Regions from separate parts of the Homo sapiens genome. Here region 2 is linked to region 1. The links come from fine-mapping of genetic effects on gene expression. Tissue or cell type: tibial artery. Region 1 holds a variant in brackets; the other region holds the start of a gene. All regions are shown on one strand. Distances are from middle to middle.

What was found. PIP is the estimated chance that this variant, and not a neighbour inherited with it, causes the effect.
Region 2: ATP10D starts here. The variant in region 1 is fine-mapped to the expression of ATP10D in tibial artery (GTEx, PIP above 0.99).

The regions. Positions count from the first base shown.
Region 1 is chr4:47,540,931-47,543,782 of GRCh38, forward strand. All of the region lies in intron 9 of ATP10D (ATPase phospholipid transporting 10D (putative)), which reads left to right. Among named protein-coding and RNA genes, the nearest start is that of ATP10D, 57 kb to the left of the region's middle. The variant A/G (reference allele first, on the strand shown) is at 1,534.
Region 2 is chr4:47,483,785-47,486,460 of GRCh38, forward strand. ATP10D (ATPase phospholipid transporting 10D (putative)) reads left to right here and starts at 1,491. Exons shown (of 23, transcript NM_020453.4): 1 at 1,491-1,735. RefSeq lists enhancers at 1,328-1,622, 1,594-1,663.

The sequences.
Region 1 (2,852 bases):
CATTTATGATGCACAATTTGTGAATCTGATTTACATGGAGGCAGTAGCATTGAACACTTTTCAAGAACAAGGATTTTGGAATCAGGCCTCCTGAGTCTGCATCCCATTTCCACTACCTACAAGCTGTGTGGCCCTTAACAACTATCTAATTTCTCTGTGCCTCAATAAAAAGGATCAATGACACTATCTATCTCATTGGATGGTTAAGAGAATGAGAGAAGATAATTCACATAAAGAATTTAGAACAGCAAATGGCACAAAATGAGTTCTCTATAAATATAGCTGTTGTTACTGTTGTTGTTGTTGTAAATATTGTTAAAATAAGAAATAGGCCTATCTCTTAAGGAGCTCATGGTCCGATGTGGGAGGCAGATATGTAAACATAAATTATCATGTTCATTGTCATAAGATATAAAGTCAGTGTTCTTGTTCCATTTTGTTTTGATTTTCAGGCAGTCAGTATTGGAGGTGGATTTTGCACTGATTAAGGCTTGGGATGTTGAAGCCAAGATACTGGATGTTCTTACGATGCTGGAATTGTATGGGGAATTTGTTTAGAACAAAGGTTTATATATCAAGGATATATGGGTGATACAGTTGGAGGAGGTTTAGCTGAGTGTGTTATTTACAAGCAGGCAAAAGTTGGAATGCTGGAAATGTTTGCAGATTTAGTTCATAGTGAAAGGGTTGATGGAGGATTGATGATACAATTGAAGGAAGCTCATCTGAATGCTGTTCACCTTTGTTTCGGGCCCTTTGGAGAGCACATTGAAAGTATGATAAACTTTTTGTTCTGTAGACTCATGCCCACTTCTTCCATATATCAAATTGATGCAAGTAACAGGCTATAGGAAGATTACTGGGTATTTGAAGAGGGGAATGGGAAGAAAAGACAGATCGGGGATTAAATAATGAAGAGAAATAAAGTAGACAATTTGGTACCTATCTCAATATCTACCTTCAGACAAAGGAAAGAATAGACTTTGTAAGTTTTTTCTTATGAAGCAAAAAGTAAGAATTCCTGCCCTGCTTTGAGGCATTCATGTAACTATTTTGGAGTCTACCTTAAGGTAAGTATTAAGAAATATTAAAGAAATACTAAGAAATATTAAAAGTCATAACGATTTGGATAAGTTTTATCAATATTATAATAAACCTTTGTTTCTCATACAATATATTTTTTTAACACAGGGTCTCACTCTGTTACCCAGGCTGGAGTGCAGTGGCATGATCTCAGCTCACTGCAGCCTCAACCCTCTGGGCTCAAGTGATCCTACCACCTTAGCCTCACAAGTAGTTGGGACTATGGGCACATGCCACCACGCATGGCTAATTTTTGTATTTTTTGTAGAGGCAGGATTTCGCCATGTTTCCCAGGCTGGTCTCGAACTCCTGGGCTCAAGCTATCTGCCAGCCTCGGCCTCCCAAAGTGCTGGGACTACAGGTGTAAGCCACCACACCTGGCTTCACACCTAATTTTTATAAAATTCTCACTGAGCCTGGAATTATAGCTCCAGTAGCTTTGTTTTCTGA[A/G]TCACATTGTAACTTTACTGGTCTATTTCCTTTTTTGAGAAGGAGTCTAGTCTCGCCAGGTTGCAGTGAAGTGGTGCGATCTTGGCTCACTGCAACCCCTGCCCCTTGGGTTTAAGCAGCTCTCCTGCCTCAGCCTCCCTAGTAGCTGGGATTACAGGTGCCCGCCACCACACCCAGCTAATTTTGTGTATTTTTAGTAGAGATGGGGTTTCGCCATGTTGGCCAGGCTGGTCTCAAACTCCTGACCTCAGGTGATCCACCCACCTCGGCCTCCCAAAGTGCTGGGATTGCAGGCCTGAGCCACCGGGCCTGGCCTATTTCCTTTTCATAGCTTCCACAAAATGATTAAAGGTTGAGTCACTTCATATCTTCTTGATTCCACTTTTGCAATTGTACTGACTGAACAAGTTTTCCCTACAGTAATAGCTGAGCTACCTGGAACTATACTAATTATATAGTTGCATGACGACTGATTTCCCTAATGATGGCTAGGAGTTACACGATCATTAAATATAGCCTCCATGTTTATATGTGTTTTGAAGTACAGTATTACCCCCTTATCTGTGGTTTTACTTTCCACAGTTTCAATTACCTTTGGTATAGTAAAATAAGATATTTTGAGAGAGAAAAAGAGAGATCACATTCACATAAGTTTTACTACAGTATATTGTTATAATTATTCTATTTTATTATTAGTTATTGTTGTTAATCTTTTACTATGCCTAATTTATAAGTTAACATTTATCATAGGTATGTATGTATATGAATAAACATAGTATATTTAGGGTTCAATACTATCCGTGGTTTCAGACATCCACTGGGGGTCTTGGAACATATCCCCTGTGAAAAAGGGGAAACTTCTGTATTTTTAAAATATTTTTTAAATGGTGTTACGTCATCAATAAATTCCTTGAGCTACTCAAGGATTTATCAGTCTCAGCACTATTTGGGCTAGATTAATCTTTGTTGTTGGGGGCTGTCCTGAGCATTGTAAGATGTTTAGAAGTATCCTTGGCCTCCACCCACTGAATGCCAGCAGCACACTTCACCCAGTTATAACAAGCAAAAGTATCTACAGCCATTGCCAAACCCCCAGGGGACAAATTCACCCCATGTGGAGAACCACTGAGCCAACTTATTATATACAAATCACTGCTGAGGAGCTATAATATAGTGGGTAGTGTGCTGGCTTTGGAGGCAGAAGACCTAAATCGAATTTCCAGCTCCACCCACAACTAGCTGTTTAATCATGGTTGAACTGCTTAATCTCTCTGGGTCTTAATCTCCTCAGCTGCAGAGTGGGCAGTGATAGTTTCTAC
Region 2 (2,676 bases), 57 kb before region 1:
GTCAGTGATTCTCAACCCTTGTGCACATTAGAATTTCTAGAGGAGCTTGAAAAAAAGACATTGCCATAGCGCCACCCCCAGAGATTCTGGTTTAATTGGCCTGGGTGGGGCCTTGGCATCAAGCTCCCCGGTTCACTCTGATGTGTAGCTAGTTAGAACCACTGATTTAAGCAATCCAAACAGGCTACATGCCTGAATTGTCCTGGTATGTACGTTCCCAGGAAGGCCCTCTGCTGAGGTAACAACACCAGTGTTTGATTGGGAGAGCTCAGGGGGGCCCAGCTACAGTTTTAAGTCTCCTCTATAAGGTTGACTCTCAGATAGGAAATGTGTTTCATCTTAAAGGATGTTAGAGACAGTCATATGACTGCAAAAAGTGCTACTAGGGCCAGGAATTTCAGAGGCCATGTAAATGACAGTGTATTCTACTAGGCTGGGTTAATTCTGGGGATTAAGTTTGACTAAGTTCTAGAGATTTGTCCTTACCTGCAGATGGAGGCTTCCCTAATGGAGCATCATAGGAAGCCACACCCAGAACTTGTTTCTCCTCGTCTGGCAGAAGCACGTTCTCAGTGGGTGCAGAAACTTGTTTGGCTTCTCTTGGTCTGAGAGAATTTTCAAGCCGACCAACCAGCTCCCTGTGTCTGTACTGGTGAGCTCTTTACTAATAGTCAAACATTTGCATGCTCATTTAGTTTTCTTCACTCTTGTTGCACATCTGAGAAACACTTGAGAGAATGGAAGAGAGAGGCACAATATAGGAGAGCTGTGGAGAGTTTGGCCCCACTTTTTATATTTGTTTCAATGGGATAAAACAGGCAGCCAAGATTATTAGGTTTTGTTCTGAGTTATTGGTTCGGCCTTCACTAAATGGCTTTTCCTCTTTCCAAATTAGACATTTTGAGAAACCAGACAGGTTGTTGAAACTTATTTAGAAGTTTTAAAAAAAGTTGTGAATTTTAAGCAAACGGACCTTGGCAGGTGTATGGACAAAGCCACATTATCCTGAGTAAGGGAACGGAAGGGCAAGGTGTGAGGAAAACGACCAAATCAGAATTGTAATATTTTTCCTCATTTCTTTTCTAGTCATAAAAACAGTAACATTACATATTATTTATTTATTTTGTGGTAGGGTCTCACTCTGTCGCCCAGGCTGGAATGCAGTGGCGCGACATTTTTAGATTTGATCTCTTTTACCCTCCAAAAAATAATTGTCCAGTGTTCCACGTTTAGCTAAAACAGTGAATTGTTAGAATTGCAGCAAAACAATGAACCAAACCGTCAACCGCGAGCAACCTGTACTTGGGAGGTGAAAGTCAGAGGTGAGATTGTAAGGGCTCTGGGTCACTGGGGCATCTGCGCTGGGCAGAAGGGCAGCTCGGTCAAACAGCTGGAGCTGGGAGCCGGTCAGTTGCCAGGCCCTGCCGCTGCTACGTCACGGAGGGCGGGGCGGTGGGCGATTGGCGGTGCACTGCAGCTCGGGCTGCTCTGCAGCCTGGCGGAGACGGGAGGAGGAGCGGAGGGAGAAGTAGGTTGCGAGCTCAGCACAGGCTCCGGCGCTGGCTCCCGCAGCTGAGTTTGGGAGATGTCTAAGTGATTTTTTTTTTTTCCCGGAAGGCAAATGGCTGGCGTGGAAGCACAACCCGCTTTCACTCTTCGAATTTGTGCTTAGCTCTTTTCTTGTACCTTGCGACTCGTGACCAACATGCTGTGATGTGTGCCGAGGGAGGAATTGGTAAGAGTGAGACGGCGAATCCCTCTGACTGTCCCAGCCTTCTGCTTCACCGCCCACCCGCTTTTCCTTTCTGTTTCTCTCTCCTGTTTCTCCCCGCTCCACTTCCCTAGTCGTGTTTAGATTTGATGACATGGCTCAAAACTACAGTTCTGGGCTGTTACTGAACTAAAAAAAAAAAACAACAAAAGATAAAATGATTACACCATTTTCAATCATTTGTTAAAGGGGAATTTAAAAATCTATTTTAAATGCTGGATTTTGTAAAAAGGTAAACTGCACACGCGGGCGCACACGGGCACGTACATACACGCATTCTCACACACCTTTGTACACGCGGGCATACACGGGCACGCACACACACGCATTCACACACACACACACTCCTTTGTCATCCCGTTGTGAAATAAGCAGTTTAAAGAAATTTTGGTTATCTGCCTCAAAGGTGATGAAAAGGGAAGGTGTTGAAGATTTAGCCCAGCAGATTGATTCCTTAAGGTTGATTCCCTAAGGTTGATTCCTTAGGAAGAAAAAGGTGTTTGTATTGGAGCTTTCTCGGAAATAGTTTTCAAAGGAGTGCTACAAAGAAGCCCCCATGCTTCCCCCAAAACACTAACTTTAAAGAACCTAGTTGTTATTCGGGGCACCCTTTATTTTACGTTGTAAAACATGTAGTTTTAATTTACCACGTACAGCAGAGAGACATCAGTTGGTTAGGGAATGGATGGTTATTTTGGTGTCTGGGACCCTGTGCCTTTAGAAAGAATATGTTTTAACTGCTCTTATCATGCTAGCTCAGGTTTTTAAAATGTGATCTGAATAAGACCAAAGTTTCTTCTTGCGTTCTTTTCATGCTGGTTCTAAGCAGGGAGAAAAACAAGTCTGTATGGACAGAGCAAACCTCTAACTCAAAATCAACCTTGAGAGATGCATCAACAAGGACA